Regions from separate parts of the Homo sapiens genome. Here region 1 is linked to region 2. A link means that fine-mapping ties the variant in region 2 to the expression of a gene that starts in the linked region. Tissue or cell type: blood mononuclear cells. Region 2 holds a variant in brackets; the other region holds the start of a gene. All regions are shown on one strand. Distances are between the middles of the regions.

What was found. PIP is the estimated chance that this variant, and not a neighbour inherited with it, causes the effect.
Region 1: it holds the start of ABTB2, and the variant in region 2 is fine-mapped to the expression of ABTB2 in blood mononuclear cells (TOPMed, PIP above 0.99). The same link has a PIP of 0.9 or more in monocytes.

Annotation. Positions count from the first base shown.
Region 1 is chr11:34,354,364-34,362,363 of GRCh38, reverse strand. It overlaps ABTB2 (ankyrin repeat and BTB domain containing 2), which reads left to right and starts at 4,354. Exons shown (of 17, transcript NM_145804.3): 1 at 4,354-5,663. The coding sequence starts at 4,781. RefSeq lists a silencer at 4,169-4,368 and an enhancer at 5,319-5,428.
Region 2 is chr11:34,265,887-34,273,886 of GRCh38, reverse strand. All of the region lies in intron 1 of ABTB2 (ankyrin repeat and BTB domain containing 2), which reads left to right. Among named protein-coding and RNA genes, the nearest start is that of ABTB2, 88 kb to the left of the region's middle. The variant G/T (reference allele first, on the strand shown) is at 4,815.

The DNA of each region.
Region 1 (8,000 bases), 88 kb before region 2:
CTTGAGTTAAGGAGGCAGAGGTTGCAGTAAGCCAAGATCATACCACTGCACTACAGCCTGAGTGACAGTGAGACCCCATCTCAAAAATAATTAATTAATTAAAATTTAAGACTCAGTTCTTCAGTCACAATAGCTAGATTTCAAGTTGCAGCCACAAGTGGTTAGTGGCTTCTGTATTTGATAGCACAGATATGGAACCTTTTTCTTTATCTCAGAAAGTTCTATCAGACAGTCCTGCCTAGAGGCATTGACCCTCTCTCCAGAATATGCAAATATGTACTCATATTAAAAATGTTGTAGGCAATTTTAGGTGATTCAAAGACACTCCCCACTTCCTAAGCCCACCTCCCCAAGGTGTTAGGAACCCCTTTCTGATGTGGGTGGGGGCTGGGCATAGTGGCTCATGCCTGTAATTCCCACACTTTGGGAGGCTGAGGCGGGCAGATCACTTAAGGTCAGAAGTTTGAGACCAGCCTGGCCAGTATGGTGAACCCGTCTCTACTAAAAACACAAAAATTAGCCAGAAGTGGTGGCACATGCCTGTAGTCCCCACTACTTGGTAGGCTGAGGCAGGAGAATCTCTTGAACCTGGGAGGTGGAGGTTTCAGTGAGCCGAGATAGCACCACTGCACTTCAGCCTGAATGACAGAGTGGGACTCTGTCTCAAAAATAATAATAATATGGATGGGGAGCACATGACTCTCCTAAAGTCTATGGAGGAGGCAGGTATCAGGAAAATCTCAGTTCAGATGTCAGTAATCCTTTTCCCTTAACACACAGTCTTAAGCACCTGCTGGTTCCTTGAGAGTTTAAAAAGAAACCTAGCTGTTCATTACATTGCCCCATTCATCCTGTTAGTTTCATTCATTCACTTATTCAATATTTATTGAGCTCCTACTTTACGCTCATACTGACCTAGGCAATGGGATACAAAAGTGAACTCAATGGAGAAGATCCCTTCCCTCATGGAGCTTATATTCTTGTAGGACAGAAAGACAACCAACAAACAAGCAGGTAATGCTCTCTGCTCTATAAACTTAGTTTTCTCCAATTAATTTCAAATCTATTTCTGTAAGCCTGAACATGTTAATTCTCTGCTTAAAGACATTCCCTCCTGACTAGGAGAGTTGATTAAAACCACCTGTGGGAGTTAAAGATCTACATCTGCCAAATGCACTGAAGGTGATCCACAAACTAAATTAAAATTTGGCCACTCTCCAAAGTCAAGGCCATAATCTACCTTTCTCATGAGACAGTTCTGTCTGTAAATAGTTGGGATTATAACACCCTCACTTTCAAGGTAAATTCCAGGGTATTTTATCTCCTAATTTCCAGATTGTTTTTGATTGTGTAAGCACATAGAAGACCTCACACCAGGTAAAGTTTCTAAAGTTTACTTCAAGCTACCTCTGTTACATGATTTTTGCGTGGGTAATCCGAGATCTGCTTCTTAATTGTCAACTCCACTTGGAATTGTTCCAATGTTTGCCAGTGTTCTGTTATGTTCTTTTCTCCTTGTCCAGCTTAATGACAGCTGTTTTTCTTCAAAAACAATGTTTCTTCAAAAATAATGTTTGGGTAAGGCCCGAGTTGGGATGACATTTTCTCTTAATATAATTTGCATTCTTAAAATCAAACACATTACCAGCAGATTGGCTTAACTGAACACATGCACGTATATATAAGAAACCATGTCCTTTCTTTCCTTGACCCAAAGTTTTGTATTTCACCACACTGGCCAACTCCCAAAAGTTGAACTGAAATCAAAGAATTGGTTCATTCTAAGATGGCTGGATATATATATATATATATATATATATATATATATATATATATATTCATCTCTATCTATCTTCCTCCTATTCTTTTTCCCATATCACACAAAACACAAACACAGACACATTCTGGGTTTACTTGGTACTGCCAGTCCTCAGGCTGACTAGAAGACTGAGGAAAATTTGAAAGACAAGAGATCTATCTACAGTCTTTCCTAACTTCCTAGTCCCTTTACCAGATTTTTCCATGAGGATTTGTCTTCCTTTTTTCCTTGAGGAAGCCAACTCTTGAGGGCTACAAAACACTTATTTCAGCATGTGTCTCTAAAAGATAAGAACATTTGATAAATATAACCACACTACCATTACCACATCAAAAAAAAAAAAACAGTTATTCTTTAAGAGCAAACATCGAGGCAGTGTTCCTAATGGTTTCATAATGTCAAATGTTTACTGGCTTTTTAAAACAAATTCAAAATACACATAAGTTCCACACCTTGTAATTGGTTATTATGTCTTTCAAGTCTCTTTAAATGTGTAGGTCTTCTCTCCATCTCTTTCTTTCCTTGAAACTTATTTATTAAAGAAACTCAGTTGTTTGTTCAGAAGCATTTCCCATGGCTGAATTTTGCATAATATATCTTCATGTTGCAGGTCAACATTCACAGGATTCTCAGATTCAGTTGGAGGCATGTTTGATTATCTACACTTTAAGTCATCAAGTAATTTGAATATATTAATATAAATCCCATAGGCTCTTTTTCCCACTCCAGATGATTCCTCCAATAACCTTTCATTCAGTAAGTTCCCCGTTGTAAATTTCCAGTTAAGTAATTCTCTTTAGGTTTGATGGGTGCGCACAACGAAGAAAAGGGGGGACAGGGAAACCTTTCTGAAATTCATTTCCTTTGAATATATCCATTAGAGGGCGACATTGCCTTTAATATTATATTTCCCCAATAAAGTTTTAAATTGCATAAAATTTACTTTTGTATTTTTGACAAGTTGGACCTCATTGCCTACTTTAATTTCTAATCTCACGTCTGTAAAGTGTGACTGCATTCTCCTTTGTTAGTTTGATCTCTGCTGACTTGCGTCTTTGGTATTACAGTACTTCCATCTTTGACTCTGTTCCCAATTCTAACCATCGGGCGGCGATGTTGCATAAATAAAGACCCGCGGAAAGGCAAAATTAAGCGAAACTGCCAAATAAAAAGCAGTTTCACCGGGGGTAAAGGCCATTAATTTAAGAAGGAAAGAGACAAACCAGACATTTCTAGTTCATATCCAACTCACGGCCCAAGGTCAGAACTGTGTAAAATGCAACACAAAGGAGCCATTCAGGAGTGGGGGAGGCTGACTTGGGGAGAGCGAATGCACAATCCCCGCCTTGAGCCTGCGGTTCCACTGGAGGGGGCACAGGTCCGTTTGCGCACGTGCGTGTGAGTAGCCACAGGGCAGCGGCGGGACATGCCTGCACCGGGCATGGGACTGCTGAACCAACAGCGCTCTGGCGGACCGTTTGGGACACCCGCCCGGAGGCAGGTTGGCACTGGCGCTGCCTGGAGGTCAGCCACTCATTGTACCCCGGAGGAACTGGGTCCCGCGGGGGCATACGGCTCGCCCACCGGCACGCGTTAGGAGGCGAACACCTGCATCCAGCTAGGTGTTCCGAGCTCAGCCCAGGGCGAGGGACTGCTCTGCCACCTTCTTCTCATTCTTCCTGTAAGAACACTGTCTATCTCGGACAAAAAGGACCCACCTGACAGCAAGTGGTATCGTCACACAGAGGTAACAGGGAAGTCACGGATCCTCTTGAGAATCTGACAAAAGTTGGTGCCCCTTCCCCATAGTGGCACTCAGAAAACTGCAGGTGAAACCACAAATGGGCGGAGGCACTCACAGGCTTCCTGGGGCCCGTCCATTGATCAGATACCAGGTTAAGAAATTCTGTCCTTATTGGAGCCTAGACGGCAGCGCAAAGGAACCAGACGGACTTGGAAAGAGAGGCAGGGACTCCCTCCTCCCTCCAAACACAGCCAGCGTTTCATCTCGGATTGCGGGAGGGGCCTGGCGGAAGGTGGAGGAGAGGTGGAGCGCCTGGATGGGGCCCTCCCCATTCTCCTGGCCCCAACCCCAGGACGCCTGGCTGCGGAGGGCTCGAAAGCGAGCAGCGAACGCCCAAAGCCTGGGTGGCGGGAAGGTGGCAGCGCCCTGTAGCTTTTCCTTTGCATTTTTCTTTAAATCGTGAGCTCCGGAGCTATCGTTTCGACCGCTGCTTTCCGGTCTCCACCTCCACCTCCCAGTTGGCTGGCTCGCCCTTCCCCCACCCCCCCATCCCCCCCATCCCCCCCCATCCCCACCCCCATCCCAGCCGCGTGCCCGACCCTCGGCCTCCAGCCCCGCCTCCTTCGCCGCGGGGTTTAACCCGAGGCAGAGTGAAATCTGCATAGTGACCGCCCCCTCGGAGATCATTGGTGCAGCCCCGCCCATCGCGGCCGGTGATTGGTAAGCCGCCCGGGGTTATTTGCATGTCGGACGCAGCCGGGTACCCAGCTGTGCTGCCGGCCGGCGCAGCGCAGAAGTTTGCAGAGCGCTTTCTCGCCGGCTGGTCCCGGACTCGCGCTGCGCCCTGCGCCCTGCGCCGCCGCCTCCTCCTTCTGCCGCCGCCGCCCTGTTCTCCCGGGATTCCTTCTCTGTGGAGGACTGACTCTCTGCTTGTGGGAATTAGAGGTGGACAAGGGGGAGTGCCGGGGGGTAGCGACGGGGTTCTTTCCAGTGGCAGCTGCGAGTCGGGACGCCGGGAGCGTGGGGCTCCTGCTGGCCACGGATCTCGGCCACCTTCCCGCGGCCTCCGGGCAGGCAATGCGGCCGCCGAGCCCCGCGACGCAGAGAGGAAGGAGGGTGGCCCGGAGGGCCTAGAGCTTGTTTCTGCCCACTTGGGAAAGAGGGCATGGAGTTGTGAGTGCCCCTCGCTCGGCGACGCCGCCCTCGGCAGGCTCCCCATGGCCGGGACGTACAGCTCGACTCTGAAGACGCTGGAGGACTTGACCTTGGACTCCGGGTATGGGGCCGGGGACTCGTGCCGCTCGCTCAGCCTCTCGTCCTCCAAGTCCAACTCGCAGGCGCTCAACTCTTCGGCGCAGCAGCACCGCGGGGCGGCCTGGTGGTGCTACTCCGGCTCCATGAACAGCCGCCACAACAGCTGGGACACGGTGAACACGGTGCTGCCCGAGGACCCCGAAGTGGCCGACCTCTTCTCGCGCTGTCCGCGGCTCCCCGAGCTGGAGGAGTTCCCCTGGACCGAAGGAGACGTGGCCCGGGTGCTCCGCAAAGGCGCTGGCGGCCGGCGGCTGCCCCAGTTCTCCGCCGAGGCGGTGAGGCGCCTGGCCGGGCTGCTCCGCAGGGCACTGATCCGCGTGGCCCGCGAGGCGCAGCGCCTGAGCGTGCTGCACGCCAAGTGCACCCGCTTTGAGGTGCAGAGCGCCGTGCGCCTGGTGCACAGCTGGGCGCTGGCCGAGAGCTGCGCGCTGGCAGCCGTCAAGGCGCTGTCCCTGTACAGCATGAGCGCCGGCGACGGGCTGCGCCGGGGCAAGTCCGCGCGCTGCGGCCTCACCTTCTCAGTGGGTCGCTTTTTCCGCTGGATGGTGGACACCCGAATCTCCGTGCGCATCCACGAGTACGCAGCCATCTCCCTCACCGCCTGCATGGAGAACCTGGTGGAGGAGATCCGGGCCAGGGTGATGGCCAGCCACAGCCCTGATGGCGGAGGGGCCGGAGGCGGGGAGGTGTCTGCTGAGGCCCTGGAGATGGTCATCAACAACGACGCCGAGCTCTGGGGCGTCTTGCAGCCCTATGAGCATCTCATCTGCGGCAAGAACGCCAATGGTAAGCGCGCGGGCCTCGGACTGGCAGACTGGGTAGGCAAGAAATCCCGCCCTGGGCTACTGGGGGAGTGAATTTCCTGAGACAAAGCTGGTGGCTGTGCCAGTTCTTTGGGAGAAAACGTTTGGTCTGAGGATAGGGTTCATTACATGGCACTTGCCAGAGATTGTTCTAAGGGTGTCTGACTTTTGGAGGGTAAACTTGTGAATGATCTCCATCCTGTTCTGCGTGGCATTGTTACTATCTGCGGGCTGTTCATTGATTGGGTGAGATTGAATCTCTTGACCAAGCCATTCCTGAACCTCTCTTGAAATGAAACTTACTGCCCCGTGGCTCTTTACCGTGATTGACTAGGTCTCTAGCTGCTGTCTTTCCCCAACAGCTGGTTAGATTGACTGATTCTGCCCCCTAGTTTTCCCCAGCTCAATAGCAGCAACCAAAGGGTCCCAACTTAAAGACCTGAACCTTGGATAAGTAAGATGGGCGGAGGGAAGTGGGAAGCCCAAGATCTGGTGCTGCGCCTTGTGCTTTGCTGGGCTGAAGGATGCTGTCAGGCGCTCTCTTGGGGGATGGAGGGGTAGTGGTTCGCTCTTACCTATATGTGCCCAGGAATGATGAAACCTGGGGACCCCGACTCCCCTTCCCAGAAAAGTAACCACAGATTGTCTCCTGAGACCTGATTTTTCCAAGCTGTCACCAACCAAGTGAGCCATTGGTTAAAACCTTGCATTGTATTAAATGTTCTTTCCTGAAAAGAGTGGTGGCCCATCAAGGGGAAGAGATAGGTAACCGCATGGGGTCAAGTCTGGGAAAGGAACCATTGGGTGGTTGCACTTCCCTGAAGATAGCATGGATTTGGTGCAAAGGATGGAAACAAAGCACATGACCTTTTCCCTGACAATGTTAGGGGGTGTGACATTGCATTCAACTGCAAACTACCTACAAGACTTCAGTTTGAGAAGTCAGCACCATAAACTGTTCAGAATGGTATTATGGTTAAACAGCCTTACGATCTGATTGGAAGGCCATTTGGGGGGCAGCTTTCAGTGGCAAATAAGCAGGCAGTGGAAGAGGTCAGGTGGGGACTGGAAAGGGATAAAAGAAGTCAAAACATGGTTTAACATAATCATAATAGCTGAAATGCAAAATAACCCTTAATGTGTCGTCATTATTCTCAGCACTTTGTATTTAACTCAAGTACTCCTAGCAAGCCTATTAGGTAGGTACTTACTGCATAGTATGATGCCCATTTTACAGATAAGGAAACCAAGGTACCCAGCAGTTAAATAATCTGCCCAACATTACATAGATGTTAAATGGCAAAACTGGAATTTGAATCCAGTTTGAATCCAGGTAGGCCCCTTTAAGGTTCTAGATGCTGGTGGAGAAGAAACAGCTTTGTTTTTCTGGTTTGTTGTTGTTGTTTGTTTGTTTGTTTTTCTTACTGGACTATAGCTCTCAGATCTTATGCTTTGTTTTTTGATTAGCCCAGTTTTCGAGAACAGTTGACATGTTAGGCCCATTTTGAAGACACTCTGTACCAAGCATGGCTTACTTTGACATTATTGGTTTTGTTTTTAAATTCTGGCACTGCCAAAGGAGATGCTGGGAATTGAAGAGCATCTGCTGCTTAATTTTCTTCCTCTTAGGTCAGAGCTAAGGTCAGTCCTGAATCTCAGTTGATGATGTCACAGCTGCTTGTTGTGCCTCACCCTCCAGGTTTGTGGCATCAACACTGGGAACAGCAGCTCCAGGGCAGGAAGTGGAGGGCCAGGGGATTTCCATCTCCAGTGGTCATAATTGAGGGAAAGAGTTCTGTACTTTTGGCTGAGAGGAGGCCCAAACTGAACTCAAAGAAGTAAAGGCAGGCTCCTAGGAGAAAAGACTGAAGACCTAACCCTATAAGCCAAACAAGAATAAGGGTGGAACTGTAAATGCAAAACAAAACAAAAACATATATTCATGCAGAACAGGTGCCCAGCACATTGAGAAGCTTCTCCCAGCTTTTCTAACTGCAAATTGAAATAAGGAAGACCAACTCCCTGCCCAGGACACCCTGAAGATGCGAAGTGGCCAGAAGCTGCTAGAAAACAGATGTCTTCTGCTAAAGGGCTTCCAACCAAAGAACTATTTCTTATCTAGGGTCAGCATTCCTTGGGATTTCCTTTATAAGTTGGTCTTTTGGCACCACCTACCCCCCCACCCCCACCCCCCAGCTCCACCACCACCTTTTGTTTTTTTAAATAGAGACAGGGTTTTGCTATGTTGCCCAGGCTGGTTTCAAACTCCTGGGCTCCAGCAGTCCTCCTGCCTCGGCCTCTCAAAATGTTGGGATTACAG
Region 2 (8,000 bases):
GCCACCGCGCCCGGCCAAATATCATTATTTTTGAGGCAGGGTCTCACTTGTTATAATTATTGTTATTCCTTCCCTCCAGCCTGCTTTAGAGTGATGCCCATGATGCAGTCAAAGGTGTCTGAGTTCCTTTCACTTTTCTAGATCGTTGCCCCAGTACTAGTGCATAAAGGGATGCAAGGTTTTAGGAACTTTGACCTTGAAGCCAGACTGTGTAGCCACCGTCACTTCTCTCTGGGAGGCTGTTGTCAGATCAGGCCCTGTTCCATCCCTCTCCTCGGAGGTCTGCCAGTGTTACTCAGCCATGAAGCCCATCAAGGGGCCACAGTTCAGATGGAGGAGGAGTCTTTAAGCAGAAGACAGAATGCCTGGGGATGCTGTTGTCTGGGGTCAAATGCTGGCTTCGTCCAGTGGAGAAGTGAGTAGAACCAGCCCACTGTATCCCTTCTGCATCCCCTGCCAGCTTACTCTCTGAAGCAGCAAACCTGGAGTCGGTCGAGGTTCCCCAACAGAGAGACCCCGGGCCTTGCAAGAGCAGGCCTGGACAGCCTGGAGTTTTCTCTCAAAATTGTAACATGGGTTTATTCCAAAACAAAGCAACAAAAGTAGACCCCTGGTGTATCCTTGGCTCACTTCCATAAAGCATCACAACCATTAACCAAAGGAAAAGAAGGCCTGAGCCCTGTGGCGGAAGTCAGGCCAAGATTTTCCTCACTCCCCTCCCTTTCTGGGACCCAGGAATAGTAAAAATAGTAAACATAATTATAACAAAAAATTTAAAAAAATTTTTTTAATTTAAAAAAAGCTAAAAATCATGGAATGTTTGCTAAATGTCAGGACGGTTTAAGTACTTTATATATATTAAGTTATTTAATCTTCCTAGCCTTTAAGAAACGCTATTATTGTTGTTTCCCTTTTACAGATTAGGGGACTAGGGCACAGAGCAGTTATGTAATTTGCTTAAGGTCACACAGCTAGTAGTGGCCATGCCAACTTTAGAACTCAGACAGTCTGGAATTAGAGGCTGTACACTTAACCACAGCTCTGAACTGCGTCTCATGATAGTTATCAAGTTGTTATAGAAATAAACCATATATACGATAAAATGATATCAAACTATACATACACAACATTATTCCAGTGTGTATGGTTGGTTGGTTTTTTTTTTTTTTTTTTTTTTTTTGAGACGGAGTCTTACTCTGTCGCCCAGGCTGGAGTGCAGTGGTGTGGTCTTGGCTCACTGCAAGCTCCGCCTCCCAGGTTCACGCCATTCTCCTGCCTCAGCCTCCCGAGTAGCTGGGACTACAGGTGCCCGCCACCACATCTGGCTAGTTTTTTGTATTTTTAGTAGAGACGGGGTTTCACTGTGTTAGCCAGGATGGTCTCAATCTCCTGACCTCGTGATCCACCTGCCTTGGCCTCCCAAAGTGCTGGGATCACAGGCGTGAGCCACCACGCTTGGCCTGCCAATGTGTATGGTTTTTTAGTTTTGCTATTATACTCTAATTGTGTGAGATTTAACCATCTGGGGAAAGTGAGCAAAGAATACACAGGACCTTTCTGTATTCTTTTTTTTTTTTTTTTTTTGCAGCTTCCTGTGACTCTATAATTATTTCCAAATAAGAGGTCAGAACAAAAGCAAACCACAATCAACAGTGTATTGAATTCTTATTGTATGCCAAGCACTGTGATAAACATTTAACATTTATTATTTTATTTACTCCTAACAGCAACCCAATAAGATGTGGGTACTATCATTATCTTTAGTTACAGATGAGGAAACTGAGGGTTGGCAAGGTTAATAAGTTGGATACCATCAATAAGAAGTAGTATGACCACTGGGTAGTACCCACCTAGATTTATTATAAACATCAAATCAGAAAAAGCACCTGGTATATGGATGTTCTGTAAATGTTGATTTCCATGTGTTTGCTTGGCAAGCACAGAGCCCTGCTAGGTGCCATACACAGTCTAGCATTAGCCAGTCCAAGCCTCTGCTGGTTTGGCTCACAGGATGCTAGGGATATAAGGACAAGTACAACATGTTTCCACCATCAAGGAGCATATAGTTGGGGAACAGTGACTTCCATGGTTCCAAAGGCAAGTTGTATGTATGTATGTATGTATGTATGTATGTATGTATGTATGTATGTATTTGAGATAGGGTCTCACTCTGTCGCCTAAGCTGGAGTGCAGTGGCACAATCACAGCTCATTCAGCCTCAACCTTCTGGGCCCAAGCAATCCTCCTACCTCAGCCTCCCAAGAAGCTGGGACCACAGGTGTGTGCCACCATACCCAGCTAATTATTTTTTGTAGAGGTGGAGTCTCCCTGTGTTGCCCAGGGTAGTCTCAAACTCCTGAGCTCAAGCAATCCTCCCATCTTGGCCTTCCAAAGTGCTGGGATTACAGGCATGAGCCACCACTCCTGGCCTAGTTGTATGTATTTAGCATATGAACCCAGAGGAAGTACCCTCCTACCTCAGAGCTCCCTCCCCTGGAGCCAGAGTCTGGATGGTTGGACCCAAGCCAGGCACCTTCCTGGGACTCAAGGACACAGTGAGGGTTTGAAAGAGGGAGCATTATCAATCACCATGTTGGATGGCATCAGTGATTATTATCTTCATTTCCATCAAAGGTGTCTTGTGAAAGGGTGTCATCAAGTTCAATTTAGTCTGAATCAGGACATGGCAAGGACTTATTTTCTATTTCTGCCCTGGGCTGGACCTGTCTTGAATAATTCAGTGTTCATCATCTACTTCTAAAAGCCGAGCTTCCTGCACTTCCCCGCCATCACCCGTCCCTATACAGCTTTATCCAGGGTCATGTGGCTGCTTGTTACTCCCTGTCTCATCTCCATCAAAAACCCACCCATCCCCACCTCTGGCTGCTAGTAAATGAGTGTTTTCAGGAAAGAGAATCAACTTTAGGTATGTAGTACAAGGTATCAGCTGCCTAAAGTCAAGAGGCAGCCCTCAGGGCAAAAGGCGTCACACAGTAGCCTAGGGACATCTTTCAACCTAGCACTCTTTAAAAAAACGAAGAAAACCCAAAACTTGACGATATGCTATCATCTAAAACTTGGGAGAGTCCCTGATCTGGCAACAGCTGGCTAGAGCTGAATAGCATCTGCCCCCTCTAGATAGGCAAATGCTGTTCCCACCCCCCAAACTCCACTTGTTTACCTTGCATGCCTGGTCCCCAAGAGCATCTGGTTGTCAACCTCTGAGGTGGAGGAAGGAAAGCCCTCAGGCTGGGCACGGTGGCTCACGCCTGTAATCCCAGCACTTTGGGAGGCTGAGGCGGGCGGATCACCTGAGGTCAGGAGTTCCAGAACAGCCTGGCCAACATGGTGAAACCCCATCTTTACTAAAAATACAAAAATTGGCTAGGTGTGGTGGTAGGTGCCTATAATCCCAGCTACTCGGGAGGCTGAAGCAGGAGAATAGTTTGAACCCAGCAGGCGGAGGTTGCAGCGAGCCGAGATCGTGACACTGCACTCCAGCCTGGGCAACAGAATGAGACTCCATCTCAAAAAAAAAAAAAAAAAGGAAAACCGTCTACAGTGGTGAACAGATTAGATGTTTTCAAAGATACGTGGGCTATGTTTGATCCTGAAACCATGCAGGAAGCTGCCCACCCACCCTTCTGAGGCCAGTGTTACATCTAGTCCTCTTGGTCGGGGAGCTAGGATTCTAGAGGAGAATTCTCAGCCCTGCATCAACACCCTGACTGCGGCAGGATTTCTGAAAGAGCCATTGGGGGAACTACATGCTGACTTGGATCGTTGTGCATCCGTGCATGAAGCATCCATGAGAAAAGGGCTGGTCTGGAGTGTTTCTGGCTGATGGGTCACCAGATAAGGAGCCAGAAGACGTAAGTTTCAGTCTGGCTGTACCACTTGCTAAGTGGACATTTGACTTGTTTGATTTTCTTATCTGTAAAATGGGGATAATGTCCACTGTGCCTACCAACAGGGTGGATGAGAGGATCGAGTCACGTGATTGTATGAAAATGTTATGAACTGTGGAGTTGTATTGAAAAATTAGGTGGTGTGACAGCTATGGTAGGCTGTGGAAGCACACACAACCTCTCTGAGTGTGGAAATCAGGAGTTGACAAGCTAGGGCCAGTGGGCCAAATCCCATCCACTGCAAATGGTTTTTATATTTTGAAATGGTTGAAAGATAATCAAAAGACAAATGATGTTCCATGGCACATGGCATTTGTGTGAAGTTCAAATTTCTCTGTCCACACATGAAGGCTCGTTGGGACACAGCCTTACCATTTGGTTGCAAGTTGTCTGTGGCTGCTCTTGCTCTACAACAGACGAGGTGGGGAGTTGTGAGAGAGACCACATGGTCCACAAAGCATAAAGTATTTGCTACCTGACCCTTAGAGAAAGCTTACCAAGCTGTGGCCTAGGTCATGGAGGGGCAGAGGCTGAATCCCCTCCCTTCTTTTCCTTTGTTTCTTCTGCCACCCAGAAGTAGGTGCTACTGCAAATGGGTGGCCCAAGCAAGGAATATCTTCAGATCTCACAGAAGCAAATCTGCTGTGACCACAGCAAATCTGCCCTAAACAACAGAGCCAGGAATTTCTCCCAGTTTAATTCCTATCGAGTGCTTCCATCCTCTGAGCTCCAGCTTAGAGGCACTTCCCGATGAAAACCACAGCATTCGTTTGTAAAACCAATCCCCCTTTTAGCAACAACCACAAAAAGAGAAGGGGCTGTTCCTGTCACAGTGGGCATTTCTCCATCGTGTTCACTACCCCAGGGGCCTGGTCAGTGGTGCTTCCTCTCCTTGGCCACAAACTG[G/T]CAAGAAACACAAAGGGCAACTGCTGTTCTGATAAGGCTGTGGGGGGCATCAGCGCTGAATCATGTCCCCCAGAAGATATGTTGAAGTCTTAACCCCTAGGACCTCGGAATGTCACTTTATTTGGAAATAAGTAGGTGTGGATGTAGTTAGCTAAGATGAGGCCCCACTGGGTAGGGTGGGTCCCCCATCCAACATGCCTGGTGTCCTTAGAGTAAGAGGGGCATCTGAATACAGGGTGAGGCACACGTGGAGGATGCATGGGATGTGGAGGGCTGTGTCTAGCAGACGAGGAAGCTGGGAGGAGGCAACGGAAAACTTACCAGGGTCCCAGAGGAAACAGGGCCCTGCCGACACCTTGATTTCAGACTTCTTGCCTCCAGGAGTGTAGCAGAATAAAGTTCTGCTGTTTAAAGCCTCCCAGTTCATGGTACTTTGTTACAGAAGCCCCAGGAAACTCACGCAGTGGCTGGCCCACCCTGCCGGTGCAGCATTCCAATACCCTTCCAGTACCTGTCATTATCCCTGTTCTACAAATAAGGCAGTAAAGGCACGGCAAGTTCCAATGACTGCCTGAGGTTTTGGCTAGTGGCAGAGCAGGAATCAAACCCAGGCCCTCTGATTCCACGCTGCTGCAGTGGATGATCTGGGAAATGTCAGCCGTCCTGTCCCCATCCCTAGCATCCACTAAGAGGAGAGAGTGGGTTCTCAGACTGATGGCATCTTCTGCTTCGTGTTCCTCATTCCAGGAGCTCTGAGGTAGTTATTTTTCTACTGTGAGCATCTGAACTTATTTACTTGACTTCTTAAATATGTACAAGAAAAACATCAGGCCAGACACAGTGGCTCAAGCCTGTAATCCCAACACTTTGATAATCCAAGAGAACCCAAGACAGGTGGATCACTTTGAGCCCAAGAGTTCAAGACCAGCCTGGGCAACATGGAGAAAACCTGTTTCTCCAAAAAAAATTAAAAAGTTAGCCGAGCATGGTGGCTGGCGCCTATAGTCCCAGCTACTCAGGAGGCTGAGGCTGGAGAATCACTTCAGCCCGGGAAGCAGAGGTTGTAGTGAGCCGAGATCAAGCCACTGCACTCCAGCCTGGGCAACAGAGCCAGACCCTGTCTAAAAAAGAAATCTTAAAATAGGGAGCATGTTTTACATACATTTGTGCATTATTTATAATAAAAATTGAAGAGGAGTGAACTCTCATTTTCTTAGCATTTACAGTGTATCTGAAGAATGTGCTTAAGAGATCCTTGGGGAGGTACCCCAAAAAACCCCCGTGTGCAAGGCAATTTAATAAGGGAAGTCTCCAATGTCCTCCTGGAAAGCATAAGAACACTGATACTTCCTTCTCAGATAGCACCTGGTTGGCCAAGTCCTTGTGTAACAAACATAAACGAAATCCACACCAAAAACTGGAGATGATGCACTTTCCCCCACTAGGGTGATTCCTTTTCAAACCTTCAACTCACCCACTGGAGAAGAAACTCAGGTTGCAAGTGAAATCTTACCATTCAAAGTCTAGGATTTTTTTTGTTTCAAATATTGCCTTTTCTCTGTGTTACAAGTATTTTCAAACATGCAGACATGTATTCAGGGCCCAGGTTTAGGGTTTCTCAACTACGGGGATGGAAATGTGGGATGGGGGCAGGGAGTGATGCCGTCAGGATGGGGAAGAGGCCAGGGTTGGGGTCCAGGAAAGAGAATGCCAGGGACCTTCAGAAAGTCAGCAAGACTGAGCCCCAGTGGGGTGTTCCTGGCCAGTTGAGTCTGTCCCTGTCTGCCGTGGTGACCCAGGTTTCTCCATGGAATTCCACCAGCATTGGCTTGCTCTTCTGAGGGCTGCCGCCTCTCGAGCACCCAGAATTTGAATGCCTGGCCTCAGCTACAGAGTACTTGGCCGTCGTGACACATGGCTGGCAGCATCCGACGTGCACGTCTGCTGCTGCCAATAAAGAGAATTGTTTCTTTCTCTGAACAGAGTCCATTTACATTGAGAGAATTTTCCTCTCCTACCTCCACCAGCACTTCCTCCCCGCCCCGCCCCTCCCTCCCCTACCACCCCACAAAAAGGAAAAAGCTTTTGGGGAATTTGTTTTTAGTGGGCTCACTCAAAAGGAGCTTTATGTTTATTTTCTGAGTGGCCTCTGGACTGTTGTGTCCATTTATCATACCTCCCCCGCCTCTCCCTCCCCTCCCACCCACTGGCCCCCATCTCTCCTCTACTCTGAAAACCTAAACTTCATCAAACTGTTCCTAACGACTACCACATGTCTACAGAGGGCACAGGGGGTGGGGGAGGGGGATCTGGGAAATGAAGAAACCCTCCAAGGAGCACAGTAGCGTATTAAAATTCAATGGCTTAGTCATCAGAGTTTTCAGCCCAAGCACCGAAGAAAAATAAATGAATGTTCTGTAACAGTCTTGTGGATCTCGGAGGAAGGGGGTGGCAGGGGAGGGAGAGGAGAGGAGATGTTGTGGTTTTTAGATAGAGGAGTTCATGCTGTAGAGAACAATTAAGGCCTTTGCTCAGAAATAACAAGACACACTACTGTTTTCCTGCTTGCTGGAGGAGTGCATAGTGTCAGGGCTGGCAGGGATTGGTCTGATCGGCCAGCTCTGCTCACGGATGAGGAAACTAAGGCCCAGGCCAGGGATGTGACTTCTTTAGAGTCATATAAGTAGAGGCCAGGTGCAGTGGCTTATGCCTGTAATCCCAGCACTTCGGGAGGCTGAGGCAGGAAGATTGCTTGAGCCCAGGAGTTCAAGGCCAGACTGGGCAATATAGTGAGACCCCATACTTCCGAAAAAAATGTAACAATTTGCTAGGCATGGTGGCATGTGCCTGGAGTCCCAGCTACTTGAGAGGCTGAGGTGGAAGGATTGCTTGAGTGCAGGAGTTTGAGGTTACGATGAGCTATGATCGCACCACTGCACTCCAGCCTGGGTGACAGAGTGAGACCCTGTCTCTAAATAAGTAGATAAATAAATAACAAAAATGAATTCGTGGTAGAGATGGAACTGGATCCCCTCAATCATTCTTTCCTCCCAACTCAGGCAGATCTGCTTGGAGTTTCTGATGGTGTTTTATTCTGTTTTTTGAGATGGAGTTTTGCTCTTTTCTCCCAGGCTGGAATGCAGTGGCGTGATCTTGGCTCACTGCAACCTCTGCCTCCAGGGTTCA